Regions from separate parts of the Homo sapiens genome. Here region 1 is reported to be linked to region 2. The links are microRNA targets in miRTarBase. Many come from high-throughput screens and were not tested one by one. Region 2 holds a microRNA gene; the other region holds the end of a gene's coding sequence.

Region 1 (3,166 bases), not on the chromosome of region 2:
GCAGAGTGTTTATTTTTTTTAAAATTACTTAAAAAAGGTTGTTTACAGAGATGTGGATTTATATAACTTGGTGACAACATTTTTAAAATGTACAGGCTATTTCATATTATTGCACTTACTCTTTAATATATAAGGCATTTTACTTTACATAAATAAAGGTTAATGTATAATATCATACAAAGTTATGGTGCCAATTAAGTCAACCATCAAATTCAATGAGATGTGTGGGAAGATGGAAATGAAACCCAGCCTACTTTAATCTTCATGGTATATTCTTGCAACTACGGTTTACTTGTTATAACACATATTTATTTACCCTCATAGCTTATTGTGAATGACTGACCAGTTAAAAAAAAAGAAACAATGACAGTTTTAGTAGGACAATACCATTAGTGTTCACTTCAGAAAGTGTGGGAATTTATTAGGCTAATTAGAAATACTAGTCATGCCTTGAACACTGAAGACAAATAAATAGCTTTCTATCTATCTTAGGGTCAAAGACAGTTTAGCTTTTGCTTCTTCCCTTAAATTTCAACTGTTTGTTGGCGAGGGAAACCTTCTGGCAAGATGTAGTAGCAGTGGCTGATGACTTTAGCATAGTGTATGTGGTAAGCCAGAGGTCTACCCTTGTACTCCAGATATGAGGATTAAAAAGACTTGCGGAAGGAGACCATTCCATTTGCTCCACATTGCACAAGAAATTCCTGTCTGTTCACATAGGGCTGTGCGTTTATTAATTAATTATTATTAGGCACAGCTGTAAGAGTGGAGGCGAAAAGCAGTTTTCAGTGTTGTTGACTTGAAATAGTCTTTGATTTAGGCAAGAAAGCAGAAACCACAAAACTGACCCCAGAGACTGAAAAACAATCAATCAATATCTATCAATCAAGCATGCACCTTGCACTGACTTCCTACAGTATTCTACCTGTAACTGTAGTGAAAAGTAGAAGTAAAATCAATAAGACCTTTCTAACTAACTCCTGTACCATATTTTCCTTTGTATTGCCAGTTGATGAGAAATCTGGACTCAGACAAGCCAGCTATTTCTCTCTCATCTGAAGGACCTCTCTAGGCCGACTTCAAAGATGTTTAGTGGGATTGGTCATTCAGAAAAATGATGATGTACAAAGCTGATGGCTAAAGCCCCTCCATGAATCTGGGGGTCACAGCCATAGACCCAAGCTGTAGGTTATTTAAAGAAGTATCTCCAACATAAAATCTTAGTGTCATGCACACAGGTATGGCAAATGCACTCTCCACTCATGTTGTCAGGGCTCAACGGGTTGGTTTGTGCCACTGAAGACGACCTGGCTTGTAACTACATTTCTGCTCCTTTACCTTGACTCACCCTGTTTCTCCTCCTCTTTATGACCCGATGAGAGTTTGGAATTATTTACCTAAGAAAATAAGGTACATCATGAGGAGAGAAAAGCCAGCTATGTGACGACGAACGGAATATCCAATCGGAATAGCTACTGGGAAGCAGCTCATGCCACCAGAGGAGGAGTGGCCAGAGTGAGTTTCCCAAGTAGCGTGAGTCACGACAGTCTTCTGTAGGAAAACATTTTTGGCAAAAGGAGGAAATTGCAAAGCGGGAAAACGAAAACAGCAAAAACTTAAGTCACTGCAGTTGTCATTATACTAGGTCAAGAAAAGAGATCCAATACTTAGAATGTTACATTTCTTAAACATGTTGGGAAAGAGGGAAAAAAACCAACCAGTCTCCTAAAAGGATTCCATTAAGCTCCTCTATTTGGATTGTACATACATTGTCTATAAATCCAAGGACACTTAGAAAGATACTTGATTTCTAAAAATTTAGTTTAAATTCATGGTTGGAGTGCATAAAATTCAGAAATGGAAACCCAGTGACTGACTGACTTGTGATATTTTTGTCTGCTCTTGGACTGACCAGTCTTGAATTCAAGCACTTATCAAGACAGGTTCAAAAACTAGTTGTAAGGTGCTTTTAGATGTTGACCTTTCTGCTCCCTCTAAGCAGTGAAGCTCATGGCTATTTAATACAGCTTATCAGAAGTGCTATTCTGTAAAACAGCCTTATGGCTTACACTTTTGAGATAGAAAATGATCAATACTTCATGGTGATCAATAACCTATTGAGTTGAACTTTGCATACGTACATTATACATTACACTCACTAAAAAATACTCTCAATTAATTATTTTGCTTTTTCCTTTTTGGACAATTCCTGAGCTCAGCCTAACAGGTCATAATTCATTTTTTTAAGTAAGTCTTATTCTCTTTTCAGGGTAACATATACAGACCTACATCTCCTCCTTCCATTGAATGTGCCTAAAAGCATTCTGTCATTTACTTACAAAATCATACAAAATGATTGATTGTCCTCTTAGGTGTGACATTTGTGTCCCCCTCAGACTTTTAGTTCCCTGATCACCAGGATTGGGTATGTTGGGAGAGCTGGCAAGAAGGAAGCAAAGGTCTAGCTAAATGTTTGTTTGTTTCAAATAAAGAAGGGTGTGTCACATCTTGTATCCCCATCAGTAAACATAACATAAAGGTAGGGGACAGGCACTGGAACGAAGGAACCCTCCCGGCCTGGGTGACGCAGGTGGAAGGCTTCTGGAGTTAATTTCATTGCTGTTGCACATACAGTTAAGTCAGGCTTCATGTGTAAGCACAAGCTTGGAGATTTTTATAGTCCGTGTCTGTACCAGTGTTGGCCATTTCAACAACCTGTGGTTTAAAGAAGTCACTCTGATTTGCTAAAGAAAGAAGAGAACTGAGAAAATGATTCTTGTTAAAATTCATGAAGAATTCCTATGCTTTCTAATTAATAACTGCACAGGTCCTTCTGGGACAGACTTCATAATATTCCAGGCATCAAAGTGCATGAGCCCAACCAGAGGTTTCCCATTAATAGCAAGAATTTCATCTCCAGCTTCTATTATTCCAGCTTGTTCAGCCGCACCACCTACGAGAATAAACACAGAATAATTAATAGCTTGGCAGTTTCATAGTATTCAAAAATCCTAAGTAAACTAAAAACTTTTAAGTGATAAAAATATCTAAATAATATATTATTGAATAGAGAAATATTTCTTAGAACACAAAAAGCATATATCCATAAAAGTAAACTGGTCTACAGAAAACAGTGCAACTCTAGCCCTCCTGCCGCCCCTCCAAA
Region 2 (3,166 bases):
GGAAAGAGTTGTGTCCTGCAGGCGTCAAGGGATGTGGCCTCTGGTCCCAGTATCCCTTTGTGGGCACACAACTTGATCCTCACTGTGCTTACACCTGCTCCTCTGTAAAGCTAGGATGGACAAACTGATCTGGATGCTTTTTTTTCCAAACTCCACCTGCAGGACTGGGGCAAGTCTGTGATGATAGAGAAAAATGAGGACAAGATTGCAAGTTTTTCATAAATCTAAATTTATTAAATGTAAAGGACTGCCTTCATCTTTCAAGTTTAGCCTTTGTGCTTTTTCTTGGTATTAAAATGTCTTTCATTTTATGAAATAGTGACAGTGGATGGATTTTTTTAAAAAAAATGGCCTGACTTGGCAGCATAAAAATTTGGTTAGCATGATATCCTGTGTGAGGTCATCTCCCCCAGTTAAAAAAAAAAAACAAAAACAGTGCCAGTCAGCGAAGGACCAGGAATAAAAACTCTGGATGAGAGGCTCTTAATCAGGTTGTAGCAGTTTGTATGAGTTTGTATAAAGCTTGACAAGTCTACGTACCCAGGCTCCAGCCTATTCTCTGTGAGGCTGCCAGGCATTTTTGGACCTATTTGCTCTCCTGTTCAAAAACCATTAGGTGTAAATATCTTCACACTTCCCATCATAATCCAGCTCCAATCTCTCTCCACCTCTTGCAACTCTCAGTATCCTCCACTCCTGCCTCACCAGTCTTTTCTCCATTCCCCATAACTCTTCACATCTCCCTGCCTTTGCTTACGCTGGTTCCTCTGCCCCGGTGCTGCCCTTCCTCCAGCTGCCTGGCAAACTCCTATTCCTCTAGACACCCAGTGTCTAATGTTACCTTTCATTCTGAATTTTTCCTTAATCTGCCCCACTGCTTCCAATGAAATAACTGCTACCTCTTCTATGTTTTTGGCACTTTGCACAGATTTCTATTCCATGTATTTATGGAGTATTTACTTCTGCCATTCTGTCCTCCAAGACTGTGACCAACAGCACCTAGGTTGGTTTCTGTCCCTCAGATATTTACTGAATTGAAATACATTGTGTTTGATATTAATAAAAGAGAAACCATGTTTGATGTAAGCCTGGTCAAATAAACAAAGACAAGTTTACTTTTATGGTCTGAATCGCTCAGATTCAAGAAAGCCCCCTCCAACCCTCAAATTCCTTCTGCACTGTCTCACTTGTGCCTCAAATCCATCCCTAACGTCTCATTCCTTCACTTAAAGGTTACAATGTAAGAAGTTTATCAGATTCTTTCCCAAGCTCAGGCTTGATGGAAGAAAGGAGGGCGGGGACGCAGGCCTATGGGTGGGGTAGGGAAGGAGCCACTAGGCTGCAGAGAGGGCAAAAAGAGGCTCTGAGGATAGAGCCTGTCTCATTCTCAGTTGTCACAGGTTGGCTGAGGTCACAGGGAGTTCAGAGCACACTGATTTAAGAAGCCACCTGCCTGTGTCCTTCAAGATGTTTAGGATGGGAAATGATGGGATCAGTAGGGCATAGGTAATGCTCTCACAGCCCATAGAGAGATGTCTTCCTACTTAAGAAAAGGCAGTGACGTTCAGGCGCCTGGTCTGAGGTGCCTGGAAATACTCACCGGATGGCAGAGGCGAGGGCTAGCCGACTGGGTGGAGGGGGCCTGGGGATCTGCGGTAGGGAGTGGGACCCATCCCGGGGGCTGCGAGTGGAGGCGGTGCCTGCTTAGAGTGTTGGCTGGACTGGAAGAGCAGGCAGGGCGTGGGTCGGCTGTTGGGGGAGGAGTAAGGCGAGGGGAGCGGGGAGGTCAAGGCCTGAGCTCCCTGTGCCAAGGCCGAGGGCAGGCGCACCCTGGGACGAGGCCTCTGTCTTACAGGGACCTGCTCCCTTCGTGCCCGGGCTGGGGGACCCTGCAGCCCACCTCTGACTTGGCCCCGAGCCATTGGGGGCACTTTTCCAGACTTGCTTGGTGCCAGGACTGGATACTTTGGGAGATCCAGGCAGGCTCCGCGGAGGTTCACGCAGGCCGAGGGGGCAGACCCTGAGTGTGGGCGTGTGGGTGTGTGCATGAGCGTGGACCCGGAGCGACACACACTCACACACACACACTCACACGCCCGCACCCACGCAGGTCCCTCGGCCGCGCCGCCCCAGACCCTCACCCCAGAGCCGGGTCCTCCCTGACCACTGCTTCTCACTAACGCAGAGGGCAGGATTCGTGGGTCCCGGACGAGGCGCCAAGGTATGGTGTTCCCACCACCCCCGGGCAGCCGCCCCCGCGCTCGCCCGCCCCCCGGGGAAGGGGATGGGGACCGAGTGCCCGGGGCTCTTACCGCTCAGGCGGCCGAGTACGCGCGGGAGTGCCCAGCGGGTCCCGCCCCGCCACGTCTGCAGGGCCGGCGGGGACGCGGCCGGAGGGCGGGCGGCTGGAGAGGGGGCCCCGCCCCGCCTGCGCCCCGCCCCACGAGGAGCGCCGCGGGGACGCCCGGCCACCCCCACGCTGCGAGGGCCGGGCCCGCGCTGGGCGAGTCTCCTGGAAACTTGGCTTGTCCCACCCCTGTGCCAGCGCGGAAAGCCAGAGCGCGCCGCCTCTCCAGCCCAGGGCGGGTGGGTCTCGGGGTTCGCCAGATCCCTTTCCTTTCCTTAAAAGGGCTTGGAAAACCCCCCGCCGTGTCACTGGGAAGAGGTCGCTCAAATTCAGCTAAAGTTTGATCTCCTGATTCTGCGTTAAGCAGCACTCCCTTGCCCTGTCGGTGGGAGTGTGATAGATTTAAAACAAACAAACCCCAAACAAACAACGAAAACCCACTTTCCAGAAGGCCAGTTTGGAGCTGTGGGTTAAAACTCCGATGTATTAGCTTTGGCCTAGGAATTCCACATTTGTGAATTTGTCCTAAGTAGGCAGTCAAATGGGCAAATATGTATGTACAAGGATGTTTGTTGTAGTTGTTTCTGCGGGGGGAAGCCGGAGACAATCTCAATGTCCCCCAGTAAGATTGGTGAAGTAAGCTACAGTAACTTCAGACATCGAATATGTTGTAGCCCTTAAAAATGAGGATTCGTTGACATGGAGGGAAGGCCACATATGAAGGCCTTCCTCAAATATGGCTTAATATGAACTCAGATGCGGAGGAAGCGCAGTGTTTATAGTATTAACTAGTTTTGTAAACAATTTTGTATTTTCTAT

What was found. The annotated mature microRNA hsa-miR-574-3p reads CACGCUCAUGCACACACCCACA and lies in region 2 at 2,034-2,055, opposite strand. An mRNA with a match to its seed (bases 2 to 7 or 8) in the 3' UTR can be bound and repressed. Matches are read on the target gene's strand: a 7mer-m8 pairs with bases 2 to 8, a 7mer-A1 pairs with bases 2 to 7 and ends in A, and an 8mer does both.
Region 1: the mRNA of PDZD2 is a reported target of hsa-miR-574-3p. The part of its 3' UTR that is shown has no 7-base or 8-base seed match.

The regions. Positions count from the first base shown.
Region 1 is chr5:32,107,756-32,110,921 of GRCh38, reverse strand. PDZD2 (PDZ domain containing 2) reads right to left here. Exons shown (of 25, transcript NM_178140.4): 25 at 1-2,953. The coding sequence ends at 2,787. LOC105374711 (a long non-coding RNA gene) reads left to right here and starts at 2,731. Exons shown (of 4, transcript XR_007058716.1): 1 at 2,731-3,166.
Region 2 is chr4:38,866,981-38,870,146 of GRCh38, reverse strand. MIR574 (microRNA 574) reads right to left here and starts at 2,115; the gene lies at 2,020-2,115. FAM114A1 (family with sequence similarity 114 member A1) reads right to left here and starts at 2,341. Exons shown (of 15, transcript NM_138389.4): 1 at 2,313-2,341; 2 at 1,601-1,749. It also overlaps a transcript of TLR6 not described here. RefSeq lists an enhancer at 1,207-1,790 and silencers at 1,998-2,047, 2,098-2,577.